Linked DNA regions of Homo sapiens. The gene in region 1 interacts genetically with each later gene. Each region holds a gene or a part of one and is shown in the gene's direction. Other genes may lie near its edges.

The links. Genes that interact genetically often act in the same process or in processes that back each other up.
Region 2: changes in NPEPPS (region 1) and CIT together harm fitness more than expected from each alone (negative genetic interaction), as found in Homo sapiens cells (one large-scale study listed by BioGRID).
Region 3: changes in NPEPPS (region 1) and GRM2 together harm fitness more than expected from each alone (negative genetic interaction), as found in Homo sapiens cells (one large-scale study listed by BioGRID).
Region 4: changes in NPEPPS (region 1) and CASK together harm fitness less than expected from each alone (positive genetic interaction), as found in Homo sapiens cells (one large-scale study listed by BioGRID).

The regions. Positions count from the first base shown.
Region 1 is NC_000017.11:47,590,108-47,595,163, forward strand, and holds part of NPEPPS (puromycin-sensitive aminopeptidase), read left to right. Parts: intron 1-609; coding exon 610-774; intron 775-1,796; exon of another isoform or gene 1,797-1,848; coding exon 1,849-1,953; intron 1,954-2,377; coding exon 2,378-2,438; intron 2,439-5,056. UniProt on the Homo sapiens protein: Aminopeptidase with broad substrate specificity for several peptides. Involved in proteolytic events essential for cell growth and viability. May act as regulator of neuropeptide activity.
Region 2 is NC_000012.12:119,716,080-119,721,135, reverse strand, and holds part of CIT (citron Rho-interacting kinase), read left to right. Parts: intron 1-550; coding exon 551-658; intron 659-2,274; coding exon 2,275-2,437; intron 2,438-2,726; coding exon 2,727-2,891; intron 2,892-5,056. UniProt on the Homo sapiens protein: Plays a role in cytokinesis. Required for KIF14 localization to the central spindle and midbody. Putative RHO/RAC effector that binds to the GTP-bound forms of RHO and RAC1. It probably binds p21 with a tighter specificity in vivo.
Region 3 is NC_000003.12:51,705,073-51,710,608, forward strand, and holds the start of GRM2 (metabotropic glutamate receptor 2 isoform a precursor), read left to right. Parts: upstream 1-1,995; 5' UTR 1,996-2,095; exon of another isoform or gene 2,096-3,775; 5' UTR 3,776-3,911; coding exon 3,912-4,361; intron 4,362-5,536. UniProt on the Homo sapiens protein: Dimeric G protein-coupled receptor which is activated by the excitatory neurotransmitter L-glutamate. Plays critical roles in modulating synaptic transmission and neuronal excitability.
Region 4 is NC_000023.11:41,548,814-41,553,869, reverse strand, and holds part of CASK (peripheral plasma membrane protein CASK), read left to right. Parts: coding exon 1-151; intron 152-5,056. UniProt on the Homo sapiens protein: Multidomain scaffolding Mg(2+)-independent protein kinase that catalyzes the phosphotransfer from ATP to proteins such as NRXN1, and plays a role in synaptic transmembrane protein anchoring and ion channel trafficking.

The DNA.
Region 1 (5,056 bases):
ATTGCTTGAGCCCAGGAGTTCAAGGCTGCAGTAAGCTACGATGGTGCCCCTGCCACTCCAGCCTGGGCAACAGAATGAGACCCTGTCTGGGTTTGCGGGAGAAGTTATTTACAATGTTTTGAAAATATCCTTTAGCCCAGGCATGGTGGCTCACACCTGTAATCTTAGCACTTTGGGAGGCCGAGGCAGGTGGATCACTTGAGTTCAGAAGTTCCAGACCAGCCTGGCCAACATGGCAAAACCCCCTCTCTACTAAAAATACAAAAATTAGGCAGGCATAGTGATACATGTCTGTAATCCCAGCTACTGGTGAACACTCCAGCCTGGTGACAAAACAAGACTTTGTCTCAAAAAAAAAAAAAAGAAAAGAAAGGAAAAGAAAATGACCCTCAGATATAATTCTCATATCACCAGTTGGCCTTTCTTGACATCTCTTTTAGTCTTCTCTCTTTTTCAGAAATGTGAGTTCTTTGCCAAATGTTTTGAACTGAATTTTAGGTCATTAAATTGTGAGTTTGGGAATATAGTGGAAGGGACATGTGAGTGTTTTAGATTAGTAGAATGACAATCATTTCATTTTCTTTAAGTATTTTCATCTTTTGTTTTTAGGAATGGTGGACTCATCTTTGGTTAAATGAAGGTTTTGCATCCTGGATTGAATATCTGTGTGTAGACCACTGCTTCCCAGAGTATGATATTTGGACTCAGTTTGTTTCTGCTGATTACACCCGTGCCCAGGAGCTTGACGCCTTAGATAACAGCCATCCTATTGAAGTGAGCCATACTTTCTAACCATTAGCCTATGACTGCTCTCATTTACAATGAAATACGTAATTTGTTACATAGATACTTTGGACTTTGAAAATAAGAGAAAATAGCATGGGTGATTTTACTGGTTCATATTTCTAGTCTTGAAAAGCTAGTAAGTCTAAGTTCTAATTAACATTTCTTTTTAAGGTAGGCAGTAAAAAAAAATTGGTCTGGCCAGGCGCAGTGGCTTATGCCTGTAATCCTAGCATTTTGGGAGGCTGAGGCAGGTGGATCACCTGAGGTCGGGAGTTTGAGACCAGCCTGACCAATATGGAGAAACCCCGTCTTTACTAAAAATACAAAATTAGCTGGGCACGGTGGCGCATGCCTGTAATCCCAGCTACTCGGGAGGCTGAGGCAGGAGAATCACTTGAACCTGGGAGGCAGAGGTTGCGGTGAGCCGAGATCGTGCCATTGCACTCCAGCCTGGGCAACAAGAGCAAAAAACTCTGCCAAAAAAAAAGAAAAAGAATAGTATGGGAGAAGTCATACCTATTGGGTAACACTATGGTTCCATTGTTTATGTCAAGGAAAATTCTGGACATATTTTATTGTCAGGGTCTGTTTTGTGAATACTTTAATTCTCTTGACTTAGCCTATCCCTACTTCAGTTTATATATATAAATTTTGTATCTAAAGAACTAGAGTTATAATGCTACTTCAACATATTTAATTAGGCTCCCATATAATTGTAATTCATTACAATTAGTGCAAGAAATCTAATGTTCTTCACCTCCATATCTTCCTCATCACTCCTCTGCAACTACCCCAAAAATAAACAGAACCATAGTGGCTTCTTTCCCAGCAGAACAAAGCCAGGACTGGAACCCAGGCTCTAAGGGATGACAGGAATCATGTTCTATTCAACTTTATTATTATTAGTTACTACATTTTTTTGAGGACCATCGTTATACATTATGAGTGAGTTAAAGGCAGAAAAATGTAAGTTAGAAGGGTTTTCCTAGAAAGCGTTTTATGTAATTCAGTATTACAGGCTATCTGCTTCCTGTCATAACCCTGAATCACACTGTCTGCCAGGTCAGTGTGGGCCATCCATCTGAGGTTGATGAGATATTTGATGCTATATCATATAGCAAAGGTGCATCTGTCATCCGAATGCTGCATGACTACATTGGGGATAAGGTAAAAAAAAACTTTAAATATTTCATTCTTTTATGGTGAAATCATAAGAGTTTTGCATGAAAAAAAGTCTCACTTTATTTGGATTAAGTTCCCAAATAGTTTCTGGCTTGTCATTTTTTTTTAATGACCAAAAAGAATGAGAATTCAATTATTTGAAGTTGACTACTCTGGTCTCTTAGATGAGTGATGTGCAGGTGTGTTTGGGAGTGGAAATGGGAGGCTGTTACAAAACTTAAGAGCAAGAATAGAAGGCATAGAGTACGCATTATTAAATAAAAGGCAGTAGGCATCAGAAGGATATATGTGTTTCAGTGTATCTGATACTTGAGTATTTGAGTAAATTTGTTTTTGATTACTGATATACAAATATACTATAAATTCTGAGATCTGACTTCCCTGGATTTTAAAAATTGTGTTTTCTCAGGACTTTAAGAAAGGAATGAACATGTATTTAACCAAGTTCCAACAAAAGAATGCTGCCACAGGTAATCTCTAATAGCTTGAGATAGAAATGGAGAGAAAGTATTGTCACTCTATCCAGGCTGGGACATTTTATTTTTGTTCTGAATACTTAAGGTCAGGATCCATGTAATAAATAAATTAGCCTTATTTGAAGCTGTGTTCAGGTTGAATATCTCTAATCTCAAAATCTGAAATTTGAAATGCTCCAGAATCTGAAACTTTTTCTTTCCTTTCTTTCTTTTTTTTAATTAAAGTTCTAGGGTGCATGTGCACAATGTGCAGGTTTGTTACGTCAGTATACATGTGCGGGCCATGTTGGTTTGCTGCACCCATTAACTCGTCATTTACATTAGGTATTTCTCCTAATGCTATCCCTCCCCCAGCCCCCTACCCCATGACAGGCCCTGGTGTGTGATGTTCCCCGCCCTGTGTTCAAGTGTTCTCATTGTTCAATTCCCACCCAAAATCTGAAACTTTTTGAGTGCCAACATGATGCTCAAAGGAAATGCTCATTGGAACATTTTAGATTTTGGATATTCCAATTATAGATGCTCAGCTAGTAAGTATAATGCAAATATTCCAAAATCCAAAAGAAATATGAAATTCAAAACATTTCTGGTCCCAAGCATTTTGGATAAGGGATACTCAACCTGCAGTAAGTCATAGGGTCAACATGAATCAGGACTCGTTATCCCTTTGGTCATCCTCCAGCATTCTGCTTTCCATAACTGAGTATTTTGCCAACTTAAAGAGTCTGGGCCGGGTGTGGTGGCTCACGCCTGTAATCCTAGCACTTTGGGAGGCCAGGATGTGCGGACTGATTGAGCCCAGTTCAAGACCAGCTTGCAACATAGCGAGACCCCACCTCTACAAAAAATACAAAAATATTAGCCGGGTGTGGTGGTATGTGCCTGTAGTCCCAGCTACTCAGGAGGCTGAAGTGGGAAGGGTCACTTGAGCCCAGGAGTTTGAGGTTACAGTGAGCAATCATGGCACCACTGCACTCCAGCCTGGGCAACAGAACAAGATCCTGTCTGAAAAAAATAAAAAATAAAGGGAATACAGTCATGTGTTGCTTAACAACAGGGATATGTTCTGAGAAATATGTTGTCAGGCAATTTCATCAATATGTGAACATCATAGAATGTACTTACAGAAACCTACACAGTATGTCCTAGGCTATGTACACCTAGCCTACATGGTATATACCCTGTTGCTGCTAGGCTACAAAATACCTGTACAGCATGTTACTGTACTGAATACCATAGGCAATTATAACACAATGGTATTTGTATACCTGAACATTTCTAAATATAGAAAAGGTACAGTAAAAATATGATATTAAAGATGCTCCACCAGCTGGCTGATATGCCTATAATCCCAGCACTTTGGGAGGCTGGGGCAGGTGGACTGCTTGAGTCCAGGAGTTTGAGACCAGCCTGGGCACCATGCCAAAACCTCGCTTCTATAAAAAGTACAAAAATTAGCTGGGTGTGGTGGCATGTGCCTGTAGTCCCAGCTACTTGGGAGGCTGAGGTAGGAGGATCACTTGAGCCTGGGAGGTCAAAGCTGCAGTGAGCTGTGATTGGGCCACTGCACTCCAGCCTGGGCAACAGCGAAACGCGGTCTCAAAAGAAAATAAGGTGCTACACCTGAATGCAGCTTATAGGACAACTTATAGAGGTTGTTCTAGTTGAGTGAGTGGTGAGTGAATATGAAGGCCTAAGACATTACTATACACTACTATAGATATTATAAATACTTTACACTTAGGCTACACTGAATTTATAAAAATAATTTTTCTTTCTTGAATAATAAATTAACCTTAGCTTACTGTAACATTTTAAATTTACTTTTTAATTTTTTTAACTTTTTGATTCTTTTCAATTCTTTTTTTTTTTTTTTGAGACAGAGTTTCGCTCTTGTTGCCCAGGCTGGAGTGCAATGGTGCAGTCTTGGCTCACCACAACCTCCGCCTCCCGGGTTCAAGTGATTCTCCTGCCTCAGCCTCCTGAGTAGCTGGGATTACAGGCATGTGCCACCACGGCCGGCTAATTTTGTATTTTATTTTATGTTATGTTATGTTATGTTATGTTATGTTATGTTATGTTATGTTATGTTATTTTTTGAGACGGAGTCTCGCTCTGTCGCCCAGGCTGGAGTGCAGTGGCGCGATCTCGGCTCACTGCAAGCTCCACCTCCCGGGTTCAGGCCATTCTCCTGCCTCAGCCTCCCGAGTAGCTGGGACTACAGGCGCCCGCCACCACGCCCGGCTAATTTTTTGTATTTTTAGTAGAGACAGGGTTTCACTGTGTTAGCCAGGATGGTCTCGATCTCCTGACCTCATGATCCGCCCGCCTCTGCCTCCCAAAGTGCTGGGATTACAGGCGTGAGCCACCGCGCCTGGCCTATTTTATTTTTTTTAAAGACAGGGTCTTGCTCTGTCGCCCAGGCTGGAGTGCAGTGGTGCAGTCTTGGCTTCGTTGCAACCTCCGCCTCCTGGGTTCAAGTGATTCTCCTGTCTCAGCCTCCCAAGTAGCTGGGATTACAGGTGTGTGCCACCATGCCCAGCTAATTTTTGTATTTTTAGTAGAGACAGGGTTTCACCATGTTGGCCAGGCTGGTTTCGAACTCCTGACCT
Region 2 (5,056 bases), on another chromosome or scaffold:
AATTAGCCTGGCGTGGTGGCGGGTGCCTGTAGTCCCAGCTACTCGGGAGACTGAGGAAGGAGAATGGCTTGAACCCGGGAGGTGGAGGTTGCAGTGGGCTGAGATCACACCACTGCACTCCAGCCCGGGCAACAGAGCAAGACTTTGTCTCAAGAAAATAAATAAATAAATAAGTCTGCAGAGGCAAAGCATGATTGTACAGTCATCTGGTAAAATGGTCAGTATCTTTGTGCTGCATATTGTGTGTATTTTCCCCAAGATTTTATTTTCAAAGATTGCAAACATTCAGAGAAGTTGGAAGATTTCTATAGTGACCATGACCTACAAGGAACCTGTTGCTATTTTTACTTTTTCACATATTTATCTATAAATATATCTTTTTTCTCTTTTGCAGTAAAACTGGACTAAATACATACTGACTCAGTACTGTTTGTGTTGGATTTTCATATATTAGTGTCCTAACAACTTCACTTTTTAGTTTCTTAAAGTACCAACTTTAAAAGTATACTTCTGTCTGGATTTGAGGTTAGTTTGTTTTCTTGAATTTTAGGTTCTCTATTCTCATGAAAAGGTGAAAATGGAAGGCACTATTTCTCAACAAACCAAACTCATTGATTTTCTGCAAGCCAAAATGGACCAACCTGCTAAAAAGAAAAAGGTGAGTCAAAGTGTTTGAAAAGTGGGAATTGTCAGTTTCACTCATCATTCATGGCTCAGTGGACACCACTGTGATATATGATCATAGGAACATAGAAGAAAACAAAGTATACTTTTTTTGTTGTTTTATTTTGGGTTGAAAAATAGATTTTGAGATAATTATAATAGGTCTTACTGAAAGATATCAGTGATCAAGTCTAACAAACTACTTTTTGTTTATGACCATTCAAATCATAGTATCTTTGTTAAAGAAGTAATCCCTCCCCAGCCCACACACATAGCAGTTGGGGCAGAGGGATGTATGCAGAGAGAAAGATTTATACCAAGTCATGCATACATGACTCTAGAGGGAGTTAGCAAGTCACAAGTATGGGGCTTCAGCAGTTCAGGTCTCTCGTACCACACTCCAGAAAGGACTTTAACAGTGATCTAGTCCAGTCCTTTTGATCGGCTCACAAAGAGACTAGAACTCAGGGAGCTGGGGTGACCTGCCTGAAGTGTCTGACTGGACACTTCTCCCCTCTGCCAAGTACTGAACAACCCTTTTAGATTGCAGGAGACAAATTACAAACTAGGGGCAGGGTTATACATAGTGCACATGAGAAGATTGTTTTTCATAAGCCTGATCTATACATGCTTTCCCAAACCACTAAAGCCTTCATACTAGGTTTGGCCAGGTGTTCTCAGTTCCAGAAAAGTCTTGAAGAAGCTTGCAGTTTCCTTCCAAATGCAGAAGCATACCATAGCAGCAGTGGCAGTGGTTTTGCAGGAGAGGCCTTGATGACTTGGAATACCTAGGAGGAAGGAGTGGAGGGCTGAAGTTGACAGTTGTCTCAATATTTCCGGTGCCATCTTCGCTGTAAGGGCATGAGCACAACATTCAGAGGCCGCCTCCCACTAGACGTTGGCTGCACGGGAAGGATTTTCTTGCATGCTGCGTGACTGTATATGGTTGTTATGCTTATGATATTTAATCTTTTTTATTTTAGCAGTGAACTGTTACCTGGTTATGTCACTTGATTTAGTTAGGGTGTTTCCATTTGTTATTTTTTTTAGTTACCTTTTTTTTAAGTTGCATTATTCTGTTTTCCTTTTTTTTCCATGTATAGTAAATATTTTCATTTGCATTTTTTTTTGAGTAAGCCCCTTGTTTTGACCTCATTTTAGCATTCCTTTTAAAATTTTGCTTCCTTTTACAAAACACTCATCTCTGTGTCTTGTAACTGAGCATCATGAGACATATTCCAAGGCAAGAGTGACCTCTGAACCATCTCTCCTGACTCCATACTCCATACTCTCCTGATTCCATTTTTTGAATGGGAAAGACTCAGGACATGACTCTCCTGTCTTGGCAATGCTAGAGGAAGAGGTGGTGGCCATTCAAGCATCTTTAATCCTCTTGGTGAAAACTTCCGCACCCCTATTTTTTTCAGCCGGCTGGAACGGGCTGTGGCTCAGCCTACCCTTCCCCCCCTTCACATGCCATTTTTACTAAATACACTTACAGTGAGTATGCTCCTGGCTTTTGTGGTTTGCTCCTCCCGAGTCAGATTTCCTTTAGCTAGTTTCAAGTGCCAGTTTCCAGGAGTTAGGAGATATCTCTGTTTCCATTGCTAGGGTTTATTTAGTCGACGGAAAGAGGACCCTGCTTTACCCACACAGGTTCCTCTGCAGTACAATGAGCTGAAGCTGGCCCTGGAGAAGGAGAAAGCTCGCTGTGCAGAGCTAGAGGAAGCCCTTCAGAAGACCCGCATCGAGCTCCGGTCCGCCCGGGAGGAAGGTAGGGGCTCACTCTCTCCAAAATGCTCAAGGATGTGGAAAAGGCAGAGGATTGATCTCAGTGAGATCAGCCAAGACTAACTAGCTCAGTGTCTTCGTTTATGGCCCATACGCTTTCAGACCAGACATCCCATGTCTGAAAAACGTATGGCCCCTGTGCATTGCCAAGTTGATGTGACGCATATTCTTTTGGTCTTGGGTCCTTGAAAGATAGCCCAGGGACATTCGGCTTAGTTTGGTCCTCTAGGCGACCCAGCTAACCAAAAGGCATTGTCCTGGTCTCTCTGCAGCTGCCCACCGCAAAGCAACGGACCACCCACACCCATCCACGCCAGCCACCGCGAGGCAGCAGATCGCCATGTCCGCCATCGTGCGGTCGCCAGAGCACCAGCCCAGTGCCATGAGCCTGCTGGCCCCGCCATCCAGCCGCAGAAAGGAGTCTTCAACTCCAGAGGGTACGTTGGAGTTGTATGGAAATTTCTTTTAGTCGACTAAGACATGTGGGCATATGGTAAAAATTACAAGTAATACTAGGGGTTAAAGATTAAAAAGTCAGTCTTGGCCAGGCACGGTGGCTCACACCTGTAACCCCAGCACTTTGGGAGGCCGAGGTGGGCGGATCACCTGAAGTTGGGAGCTCAAGACCAGCCTGACCAACATGGAGAAACCCCGTCTCTACTAAAAATGCAAAATTAGCTGGGCATGGTAGTGTATGCCTGTAATCCTAGCTACTCGGGAGGCTGAGGCAGGAGAATTGCTTGAATCCGGGAGGCGGAGGTTGCGGTAGCCGAGATTGCGCCATTGCACTCCAGCCTGGGCAACAAGAGGGAAACTCCATCTCAAAAAAAAAAAAAAAAAAAAGAAAGAAGTCAGTCTCCTGGCTCCCCATCCTCAGTGTTGGTTCATATATGTGACCACATGTCTATACCATTCATGTATCTTACATTGTGTGATTATATTTAAAGAATATGAGAAAATAGGCTGGGCATGGTGGCTCACGCCAGTAATCCCAGCACTTTGGGATGCTGAGGCAGGCGGATCACCTGAGGTCAGGAGTTTGAGACCAGCCTGGCCAACATGGTGAAACCTCGTTTCTACTAAAAATACAAAAATTAGCTGGGTGTGGTAGCATTCTCCTGAAGTCCCAGCTACTTGGGAGGCTAAGGCAGTAGAATCATTTGAACCCAGGAGGTGGAGGTTGCAGTGAGCCGAGATCACCCCACTGCACTCCAGCCTGGGTGATAAAGTGAGATTCCATCTCAAAAAAAAAAAAAAAAAAAGAAAAGAAAAGAAAAAAGAATATGAAAAAATAAGCACATCTCTCTCTCAGGCCTTTTTTCTTTTATAAATATTATAGTGGTGGCTCACGCCTGTAATCCCAGCACTTTGGGAGGCTGAGGTGGGCGGATCACCTGAGGTTGGGAGTTCGAGACTAGCCTGACCAACATGGAGAAACCCTGTCTCTACTAAAAATACAAAATTAGCCGGGTGTGGTGGTGCATGCCTGTAATCCCAGTTACCTGGGAGGCTGAGGCAGGAGAACTGTTTGAACCTGGGAGGCAGAGGTTGCAGTGAGCCAAGATAAAGCCATTGCATTCCAGTCTGGGCAACAAGACTGAAACTCTGTCTCAAAAACAAAAACAAGAAAACGTAAGCTTATCTTTCAGGCCTTTTTTCTCTTATAAATATCATAGCACACTACAGTATACACTGCAAGACACCTTCGTTTCATTAAAGTGCTATCTTAGAGGTTTCACATTAGTACATAAGGACCTACCCCATTCTTTCAGAGAACCACACAGTATTCCGTGGTGTGAGCATGCAATTCACCTGTTAAGCCAGGCTCCTGTTGATGGCCATTTAGGTTGTTTCCAATCCCCTGTTACTGTAAACACCTTGCAGAGGACATCCTGTGCCTCTGTGGGTGTTGTGCCTGGAGAAATTCCTGGGAAATGAATCACTGGGTTAAAGGTCATGTACATTTTGAGTGCTGGTAGTTTGTGCCAATGTTTATTTCTACCAACAGTGTGAGGAGTTTTCTTGCTGGTCTCAAATGTACTCCATTTACCTAGAGATTAAAAGGACTTAAGAAAAGGCCAAGGAAGCTGTTTGGAATGTCTTAGGAACACTAGGGTAGAGCTGTGGTTTAGCAATCATGGCATTGCAATCAAACCTGTTTTGGTTGTAAACCAGATGGTGTTTTCTTGTTGCTGTTGTTTTTCTTTAGCCTGAAGTCATTTTCTTCCTCCTGTGTTTATATAACTCCTTGAATCAAAGAGCTTTACTTTTTTTTTTTTTTTTTTTTTTTTTTTTTTTTTTTTGAGACAGAGTCTCGCTCTGTCGCCCAGGCTTGGAGAGCAGTGGTGTGATCTTGGCTCACTGCAACCTCTGCCTCCCAGGCTCAAGCGATTCTCATGCCTCAGCTTCCTGAGTAGCTGGGATTATAGGCATGCGCCACCATGCCTGGCTAATATTTTTATTTTTAGTAGAGATAGGGTTTCACCATGTTGGCCAGGCTGGTCTTGAACTCCTGACCTCAAGCGATCCACTTGCCTTGGCCTCCCAGAGTGCTGGCATTACAGGTTTGAGCCACTGTGCCCAGCCCAAGAGCTTTACTTTT
Region 3 (5,536 bases), on another chromosome or scaffold:
ATGTGTTTTGCTATGTGTCCACATATAAAAACACACATTTGCTATGTGTCCTGCAGCCGTATATCCATAATTATGGCCATGTATGTGTGGACATGTCTTGGTGGACAGCTATTTGTGGCATGTCCTTGTGTGAGCAGCTGTATATATGTGGCTGTGTCCACATGTGCAGCCGTGTGTAGACATGGTCACATGTTCTTAGGGGCAGGGGTGTGCCCATGTGTATTATGGCTGTCTACAAGTATAGCTGTGTGTGGTTGCATGTTTATGTGTACTATGCATGTGGCCATGTCCACATTTACAACTGTGTAAGGCTAAGTGTATGTCCTCATCCGTGTGCACACAGCTGGGAGTGGTGGCTGCCTAGCTGTGTGTAACTGTGTGTCCATGTGCTGCGACTGTGCAGCTTGTTTGCTGCAGGCCACATCATGGGCTTTTCTGGCTGATGCTGTACACAGCCATATCTGTGTTTACAGCCCTGTGCCTTTTGTGAGGCTGACTTGTTGAGCAGGTTGGGAGTGTGGCTAGAAGGAGTGTGTGACTCCTCACCTCAGCACCCTCCTGCTGTCAACCCCTCTGCTCCAGAGGCCTGGCCCATTGCTCACCTACCCCAGGGAGCTGTTGCTCTGAGGCAGCCAGAGAGGGTGAGAGCAGCCGGTGGCAGAGTTGGAGGTGGAAGACAGCATGTCTGTCTCCCACTGCCACCTTGTCTCCTGTTAGTGATGGGGCTTGTGTTTGTTTGGGTTTTATGTGTCTGTTTCGTTTCAAAGCTGTATTCTTTCCACAGCAGCAGGACATCAGGTTTCTGTGTCCAGGGAAAAAGCTCGTCCTTGGTGATCACCCCCGCACCCCTACGGACTGCCACACGCACATGTGGGTGTGTGTGCCTGAGGGGTCTGGGCTTGGCATGTTCATTAGCATGTATCTGAGCTGGCCTTGCTTCCACTGACACCTGTGGAAGAAAGGGCAGTGTCGGGAATGTGTGTAGGGATGCCATGCCCCTTGGCACTTGTTAGTGTGTGCACATGTTAGGGGCAGATAGCACAGGCTCTCTAATCCCCATTCCTTCAGCACAGTCTGGCACTACAGCTTATCCACTACCCTCTACCCAGGGGCGTCCTTCCCCATCCTGCTGTGGGAGGGAAGAGTCAAGAGAATCTTCTCAGAGCTGTCCTCCCTCTGCTTGGGCTCCAGCTCTCACTCCCTCCTACGCAGCAGCCAGTTCCAGAAGCCTTTCCCTAGGCCCCTCCCCTCCCAGATGCCCCTGCCATCCCTAACACTCCCTCAGGGTTGACCCTAGTACTTGGTTCTGCAGCCCTTCCTGCAGGTTGCTCTCTCCTTGCTTAAATACCCTTTTTACATGGGAGTGGGTGGCAGGTTTAAAGGGCATCTGCAGGAAGGAAGGGGAGGCCCCATTCTCCTCTGACCTCTCCCTTCCCCCAATCTTTTCCTCATAGTGACTCTGGCTCCAGGTCTCAAAAGTGGCAGAGGACACATGCCTCCAACTCAGGCCTGGGATGTGGACCCAGCTGAAATCGCTGAGTGGGGAGAATAGACTCCACCCGTCTCCCACGCGCCCCTTTACCTATCCCCCAGAGGCACCCCTTGCACTAAGGCCAGCTCCTCCACTCTGCAGTAGCACTATGGGCACCTGTCGGGGCGCAGTGACCTTCCCCACCCCGTGCCCCGTGGCATCCCCCCGCCCCCCACCTATGCTCTCTAGGTGGTAGTCTGACTATGGGGCGGAGTGGGCCACGAAGCACCCGCTCCAGCGCAGAGCGAGAGCGCTCGGGGATTCAGCACCACGAGGCGGACAGCTCCAGGCCCTGAGGTCCCCAGAAAAGCTGGAGCGCGGAGTGTCCAGAGGAGGCGGAGGCTGGGTTGGGAGCAGGAGACCTGGCGTCTGGAGGAACGGAGGAGGGGCTGGGGGCGGGCCGGGGCCGGGGGCGGGGCGGGGCGGGCCGCGATTGAAAGCGGCGGGGCGAGCGGGCGGGCGGAGAGCGCAGAGCCAGCGAGCCAGCGAGCGAGCGAGCGGGAGCCGGAGCCTCGCGCCCCCCGCTCCACTCCGATTCTCTCCGCGCCAGAGCCAGCGCGCCAGGTAGGGTGAGCCGGTGGTGGTGGTGCCGCTGCCGCTGCCGACCTTTTTGGCCCTTACCTCACGTCCCAGGGTCCTGCGGGCCCTCAAGTTGTGGGGCGCCCGCGCTGCTGTGTCCAGACAGCGTTCCCTGAGAGCTCCGGGAAGCGGGAAGACAGCCCCGGGCGTCCCGCCTTTCTTCTCCAGAAAACGCACGCCCCACATCGCACTCCCCCGTTCCTCCTGCTCCAGCGTCCTCTGGTCCTTCTTTCTGTCTGTGCCTCCGTCTTTGTCTCAACCTCTCAGGCTTGCTCGCTCCCTGCCCAGATTTTGTGGCCCAGGCTCCTGGCTGTCTGACTCCGGGTTTCTGTCCCCTTCCTGCCTCTGAGCTTCCGTCTGGGCCTCCCCTCTGGGAGACTTGCGACTTGACCAGTTTTGGCTTCAGCCCCCATCTGGGTCCCTGTCTCCATCTGTGCTGGTCTTCCTCCCTGCTTCTCCCTCGCTTGCCTGGGTAAGCTGCTGCTTTCCTGATCCCCAGAGGAGCCCAGTGCCCCTGCCCTGGGGAGCTGAGGGGGCAAAATGAAGAGGCTCAGCCTCCGTGGCCAGCACATGGGGTCCTTGAGTTAGTTGCTGCCCTTCTTCAAACTCAGTTTCCTTTCCTGTTCTGAGGAAAGAGGTATGTCCCTCTCCCAGCCTTTCCAAGCCTGTGTGATTGTGAGAGCCTTTGTGGGGTGTGTGTTTGGGAAGGCAACTGGGGTACAAATGATTGGACGCAGTGGGGAAGAGACAGGGAGGGGGTCTCTGAGGGCCATGGCTAGGGTGGGCAGGGCCCTGAAGCTGAGGATGGGGAGATTGGAAATGGTGACTTTCTCTGCTGGGTCGGGAGTGAAGAGAAAACAGAGGCACAAAATCTCAAGCAGTGTTCTACACAGAGCTAGAGAGTCCCGCACTCTCACCCTCAGCACTGTTTGGAGACTCTAGCCCCCAACCCTGACACACACATACGTGAACATCTGCTTGCCCTGTTGACTTAGGACCTTGAGCCACTTGGGTACCCTCCCTGAGGCCAGCCATTCCACCTTGCTGTCTCATTCCCAGGGCTTAGTGTCTCTATTCCTTCCTCAGTCAGCAAACTGTGGGGATGGCTTTTTAAGAACCAAAGGTTAGAACCCTTGGGTGTTCACATGGGCTCCAGTCTCCCCACGGGTTGGAGACTGTCCCTTAGAGATGCTTCCCTTCCTCTTCCCTGGTGGGTCCTGAGACAGCAGTTCCTTCTCTCTGGAAATCCAAGGCTCAGGATGGGGACCTCTGAGTTTGTGACTGTGACATAGTCTGTTCCAAAGGTATTGACCTCGGGGTCCTGGGAGGTTTGTGCTGTTCTTGGACACCCTTTGAATTACAGAGGGGTCAGCATTGGCTGGGGTCTCCTGTCCTCTGCCTGGGACTTCACTGCTTGCATCTCTCCCCACTGCTGAGTTTGGTAGGGGAATATGGCCCATCTCTCACCAAGCTGAGGCCAGGGCTGAGAGACAGGTCCAGGGGAGTCCCAGGAGCTTCTCAACCTACTTAATGACACCATCCTGTCCCTCCCTGGCTTTTGAGTACCTAGGAAAGGGGCTCGTGGGGAGGCAGAGTCAGAAGGGGCAGCTGCTCTCAGGTTCCACTTTTCCTGGTCTGTTTTTCTGTCTTTCTATCTCTCTGCAGGAGCTGGGTCCCTTCGCATCTCTCTTCTTGTCTGTCCTTTCCTGGTCCCTGTTTCCTCCTCTCTTTGCCTTCGCTGCTTCTAATCTCATCCCCTGGAGACCCAGGTCTGCGGGACCCATCCATCCCCTTTGGGGCCATGGGATCGCTGCTTGCGCTCCTGGCACTGCTGCTGCTGTGGGGTGCTGTGGCTGAGGGCCCAGCCAAGAAGGTGCTGACCCTGGAGGGAGACTTGGTGCTGGGTGGGCTGTTCCCAGTGCACCAGAAGGGCGGCCCAGCAGAGGACTGTGGTCCTGTCAATGAGCACCGTGGCATCCAGCGCCTGGAGGCCATGCTTTTTGCACTGGACCGCATCAACCGTGACCCGCACCTGCTGCCTGGCGTGCGCCTGGGTGCACACATCCTCGACAGTTGCTCCAAGGACACACATGCGCTGGAGCAGGCACTGGACTTTGTGCGTGCCTCACTCAGCCGTGGTGCTGATGGCTCACGCCACATCTGCCCCGACGGCTCTTATGCGACCCATGGTGATGCTCCCACTGCCATCACTGGTGTTATTGGCGGTTCCTACAGTGATGTCTCCATCCAGGTACGTGGAAGCCACCCAAATGGGGGCTAGGGAGGGAGGCCGGAGGTGGTGACCCAGAATTCCTGCTGAAAAGGGGCTCATGGGCTGCTGTGAATTGGAAGGGAAACTAGAAGCTTCCTTGCAGTAGCTTTTACAGAAGCTAAGAAAGTGCCCTGGTCACATAATGGTGGTCGATTTTTAGAGACTGTGCAAGAGAACATCTTACTCTCATTACTCCCACACACACACACACCCTCACACACACACACACACCCCACACACCCTCACACACACACACAGCCCCCCACACACCCACACACACCCGACACACCCACACACACCCAACACACCCACACACACGCACCCCACACACCCACACACACCCCACACCCACCCCCACACCCACACACACACCCAGACACACACACCCTCACACACACACACACCCTCACCCTTGATGTTAACCCTGAGGGGCTTAATAGTCAGGTCTCCCACTTACTAACTGCATGACCATGGCACGTTATTTCTCTTTTCTGTGTCACAGCTTCTTCCTTATAAAATTGGATTCACAACACTTTTTTTTTTTTTCTTTTTTGAGACAGGATATCGCTCTGTCTCCCAGGCTGGAGTGCAGTGGTGAGATCTCAGCCCACTGCAATCTCTGCCTCCCGGGTTTAAGTGATTCTCCTGCCTCAGCCTCCCAAGTAGCTGGGATTACAGGCGCCTGCCACCATGCCCGGCTAATTTTTGTATTTTTAGTAGAGACGAGCCTGACCTCACCACGTTGGTCAGGCTGGTCTCAAACTCCCGACTTCAGGTGATCCACCCGCCTCGGCCTCCCAAAGTGCTGGGATTATAGGCATGAGCCACTGTGCCCGGCCCACAACACTTTCTACTTTGAGGTTTGCCATGGAAATTTAATGAGTTGATAGATGCATAGTATGTATCAGGGGCCCGGCAAGTCATAAGGGCACCGTTGATATTAGCTGCTATTATTTTTAACCCATTTTATAGATGAGGAAACGAAGGCTCAGAGAGAGGTGGGCCACATTCAAGGCAGTGGTGGAGGGGAACTGTGAAATCGGCTCTCGGCCAAGGGGCTCCTGACTTGTCAGATCATCTCTGCCTGGATTGGAGAGGGGTGGCCAGATAGAAGCCAGGAGTGGCCAGAGGAGAGAATCAGGGTAGGGGAGTCA
Region 4 (5,056 bases), on another chromosome or scaffold:
TCATCCCCTGTAAAGAAGCTGGCATTCGATTCAGAGTTGGTGACATCATCCAGATTATTAGTAAGGATGATCATAATTGGTGGCAGGGTAAACTGGAAAACTCCAAAAATGGAACTGCAGGTCTCATTCCTTCTCCTGAACTTCAGGAATGGTATGTTTTTATGCGTGTTTTGCTTTGCTTGGTTATAAAAACAAAGCCCTGACCATCCATTTTCCAATTTTATATTATTTTAGAGTGTAAAACCTGTTTGATATATTCCTTCCTTTACGAGCCAAACAAAATTTAAATTAGTCATCCAAGAATTCTATATCTTCAGTATCTAGTGAGATCCTAGTTGCAGAGTCAGGGCTTCATTTTACACAAAAAGAAAGGAAGGTCTGGAAAGAGATTGGATGAGCAGCCCTGAGCCAAGTCATGGTCTCACAGCAGAGCCCTCCACTCCTATATGCTGTTATAATTGTTTTAGAATGGCATTAAAAAAATGTACGTTCTCCTTGCCCTTCTACATGCTTTCATGCCCATCCCATTCCCACCACCAGCAAAAAATGTAGGTGCAGTGCTTCAGTGTCACTCAGAGTATTTGAAGATAAAATGTATTTCACTGTTAGAAGGAGGTAGTCAGAAGCTTTGTTCTTTACCTTGCCAGTCCTTTAAAAATACCTTTTCTGCTAGAAAGTTTAAGCCCTAAAAGCAGGCTAAAGTTAGGGGTTTTAGGCACTGTTTTTAACTGAGAGAAAAGGAGTCACAGATCACTGTATATTTTGATAAAATCTATTTCTGCTATTATTGTTACCGTTTCCTTAGTTGAACTGTCTTTTGGAAAATATTGATGGTTTTACCTTTGTTGGTACTTGGGCAATATACCAGATTATTTCTAGCACAAAAGAGATAATGTCTGAGTTTTGTTTCATGTGGCAAAAAATAACAGCCATTAAGCATCCTGCCAGTTCCTCCTAAAATACTTGAACCCAGCTAAAAGAGACCAAAGACATTGAGTCCATAGAAATTTCTACCTGCTTTTATCTATTTTTCTCACTAGTTAAGAGATTTCTCAGTTAATCTCTTTTGCTTGATCGCCTCTTTCAGCTATCCCATGTTTCCCCAAAAAATAGTATTAAATTTAGAATGTTGGAGCTGATGAGGACTTCAGATGCCATCATTTTATACATAAGGAAACGTGGGCCCAAATGGAGAAGCAGCAGCCTTCCATCTGGCATTGTCTTTCAGTCTGATCTTCGAGAAACAGTTCAAGCATAAGCAGGAGGAAAGCAATCTTTAAGTCGTTGCCGTGATGATGCCATTATATTCTTACTGATATTTACATTTTACAGAATGTCTTCTTTAATGTTACCATATATTATGGGCATTTATTGAAAATAATTGTGTAGATTCCAGACCTCTTCTGCCTAGTCAGATCATCTATATAAATGTTTCACCAATTTCTAGAACTCTGAGTCCTCTGGAGGAATCCTGAGTGATGGCAGTGCAAAAAGCAGATTTGCTTCCTATTTCCTGTAATGGTGGATGAGATTATTTGGATAAATCCTCCTGATGAAAAAAAATGAAAAGTGCCGCAGAAAATATGTTTTTCAAATGACCTTGAAAGCACTGAATAGCTGAAAAGGTATCAGGGGCCAGGCATGGTGGCTCACACCTGTAATCCTAGCACTCTGGGACGCCGAGGTGGGCAGATCACTTGAGGTCAGGAGTTCGAAGCTAGCCTGACCAACATGGTAAAACCCTGTCTCTACTTGAAATAAAAAAAAAAAAAAAAATTAGCCAGGTGTGATGGCAGGCACCTATAATCCCAGCTACTTGGGAGGCTGAGGCAGGAGAATTGCTTGAGCCCGAGAAGTGGAAGTTGCAGTGAGCCGTGATCGCGCCACTGCACTCTAGCCTGGACGACAGAGTGAGACTCTGTGTCCGGGAAATAAAAAAAGGTACTGGGGAGCTCAGTGACCAATTTTTTTTTTTTTTTTTTTTTTTTTTGAGACGGAGTCTCGCCCTGTGGCCCAGGCTGCAGTGCAATGGCATGATCTCAGGTCACTGCAACCTCTACCTCCTGGGTTCAAACAATTCTCCTGCCTCAGCCTCCTGAGTAGCTGGGATTACAGGCACCCGCCACCACATATTTTTAGTAGAGACAGGGTTTCACCATGTTGGCCAGGCTGGTCGTGAACTCCTGACCTCGTGATCCACCCACTTTGGCCTCCCAAAGTGCTGGGATTACAGGTGTGAGCCACCACACCAGGCCTCAGTGACCAATTTTTATGTGAAAGCCTTTAATAAGAATGATAAGTGGAATATCAGAGTTACCAAGTGGCCCATTTTGCAAACAGGGCATTTGTCATTACTGAACACTTCTGTGCCAGAGAACCAAGGTTAAGATCTAAGGCCAGTACAAGTTGGGGAATCTGTTAGAAGACCCTCCTCATTGTTAGGAGTGCAAGAGGCAGTCCCCCCAGGCTAAAAGGAAACAGATAAGCATACCCTTATTTCCCTTCAACACCGGAGGACTATAGAGAAAGCTGCCTTGTCACTGAGCAAAGCAAAAGATGAGGAAATTGGGAACAAACTTCCAAATTGTGGCCACCAGTCCACCTTGAATGGATTTGCACCCAGGTACACACAGCCTGGGGCAGCCAGGGGAGCTGAAGCCATGTACTTGATTTGAAGTTTCCCCTTTCTTTACTAATAGTTTCAGATGTATGGTATAAACAGAAAGTCTCTGAAGGCAAACACTTTTATCCTAACCCCCACTAACTTCATCCTATCCGCCCGACATAAACTTTTTCCAGGGCAGTAGCCAGCAAGTCAAAATTATCAGGCACACAAGGAAACAAGTAAGACCCAACAGAAATGACAGATAGTAGAAACAAACCCAAACCTACTGCATATATTGGAATTAAGAGACAAAGATTTTAAAAATAAGCTTACGAAGTTGGTTCGTTTGTTTTTGAGACAAGGTATTGTGCTCTCGCCCAGGCTGGAGTGCAATGGCATGATCATGGCTCACTGCAGCCTCGACCTCCTGGACCCAAGCAATCCACCCACCTCAGCCTTCCCAGTAGCTGGGACAACAGGCGTGCACCACCACACCCAGCTAATTTTTTTCTTTTTCTTTTTTTTTTTTTTGTAGAGATGAGGTCTCACTATGTTGCCCAGGCTGATCTCCAACTCCTAGGCTCAAGTGATCCTTCCACCTTAGCCTCCCAAAGTGCTGGGATTACAAGTGTGAGCTACCACGCCTAGCCCAGGTTTTTAAAAATCAATAATAAGCTTGTAAAATATCTTCAGAGAGCAGAAAAAAAATGTTAATGACATAGCAGATTTTAAAAAGAACCAGAGGAACATCCAGGGGGAAACATGCAGTAACAAAATTAGAATCTCAGTGGTCACACCTATTAGAATGGCTAACATTTTTTTGAAGTTTCATCAGTGGGTAAATAGATCAATAAATTGTGATATAGCCATACAATGGAATGCCACTCAGCAATAAAAAGGATCAAACTATTGATATATGCAGCAGTATGGATGAAACACAAGATCATTATGCTGAGTGAAAGAAGCCAGGCAAAAAAGAGAACACGCTATATGATTCCATTTACATAAACTTCTGGAAAATGCAAGATGGGGGTGGAGGGAGGGAGGAATTACAGAGGGGCATGAGGAAATTCTGGAGGTAATGAATATGTTTTTCTTTTTTTGGAGACGGAGTCTCGCCCTGTCACCCAGGCTGGAGTGCAGTGGCGCAATCTCAGCTCACTGCAACCTCTGCCTCCCCGGTTCAAGTGATCCTCCTGCCTCAGCCTCCCGAGTAGCTGGGATTACAGGCGCCTGCCACCACGCCTGGCTAATTTTTTGTGTTTTTAGTAGAGACAGGGTTTCACCAGGTTGGCCAGGCTGGTCTCAAGCTCCTGACCTCAAGTGATCTGCCTGCCTCAGCCTCCCAAAGTGCTAGGATTACAGGTGTGAGCCACCGCAGCACCCAGCCATTTTTATTTTTTATTTTTTATTTTTATTCTTCTAAAGTCAAGGTCCCTCTCTGTCTCCCAGGCTGGAGTGCCGTGGTGCAATCTTGGCTCCTTGCAGCCTGGAACTCCTGGATTCAAGCAATCCCCCTATCTCAGCCTCCCAAGTAGCTGGGATTACAGGCGCCCGCCACCACGCCCAACTAATTTTTAAATTTTCGATAGAGATGAGATCTCACTATGTTGGCCAGGCTGGTCTCGAACTCCTGACCTCAGGTGATCTGCCCGCCTCAACCTCCTAAAGTGTTGGGATTACCTGTGTGAGCTACCACACCTGGCTAAGAATATGTTTTTCTTGATTGTAGTGATAGTTTCATGGGATGTTTACAGATATCAAAACTGATAAATTTGTATACTTTAAATATGTTCAATATATTGCCAAAAAACTGAACTGTTAAAGTTGCAAAATATATAGAGGGAGAAAAGGATTCTAACTGAGATGATAAGAAAGAGGCCCACTGGGCAGTGTGTACCCCAAGACCTGAATAGGACTTTGGGGGTATAGGAAGCTATTCCTGGCAGAAGAGAAAGATCAATTTTCCTTTGCTTGGAAACTGAATTGGCCTCTGGGATGTCAGTGGGCATCCAATACTAACAAGAAAGATTTGAAACAATTGTATCAGCCAGACCCCCAAAACTTTGATCAAATATATTGCTACCAAGTCACATTCTTCACATTTTCTAGATGAGAAATCAGTTTTTTCGGACCCAAATGCCTTACTCTAGGCACATCAATTTAGCCCTTCAATATATTTTAGCTCCCGGACTCTGTCATCCCTCCCCTTGCCTTGCCTACAAGATCCTGATCTAAGCCATCAATAAATTGGTAGGCATGTGTTTGAAATTTCCTTCCAGGTTGACCTTAACCCTAACACGGTTTCTGTGCACTTACTGAGCTAAAAGAGCTAATGTTTATTTCTGCAGTGTCTGGTAAAAATCAATTTCATTCCTCTGTCATCACACCACATGAGACTATGCCACAATTTTTTCCTGGGAACCTGTATTTTTGTTTTAAGCTTAAGAA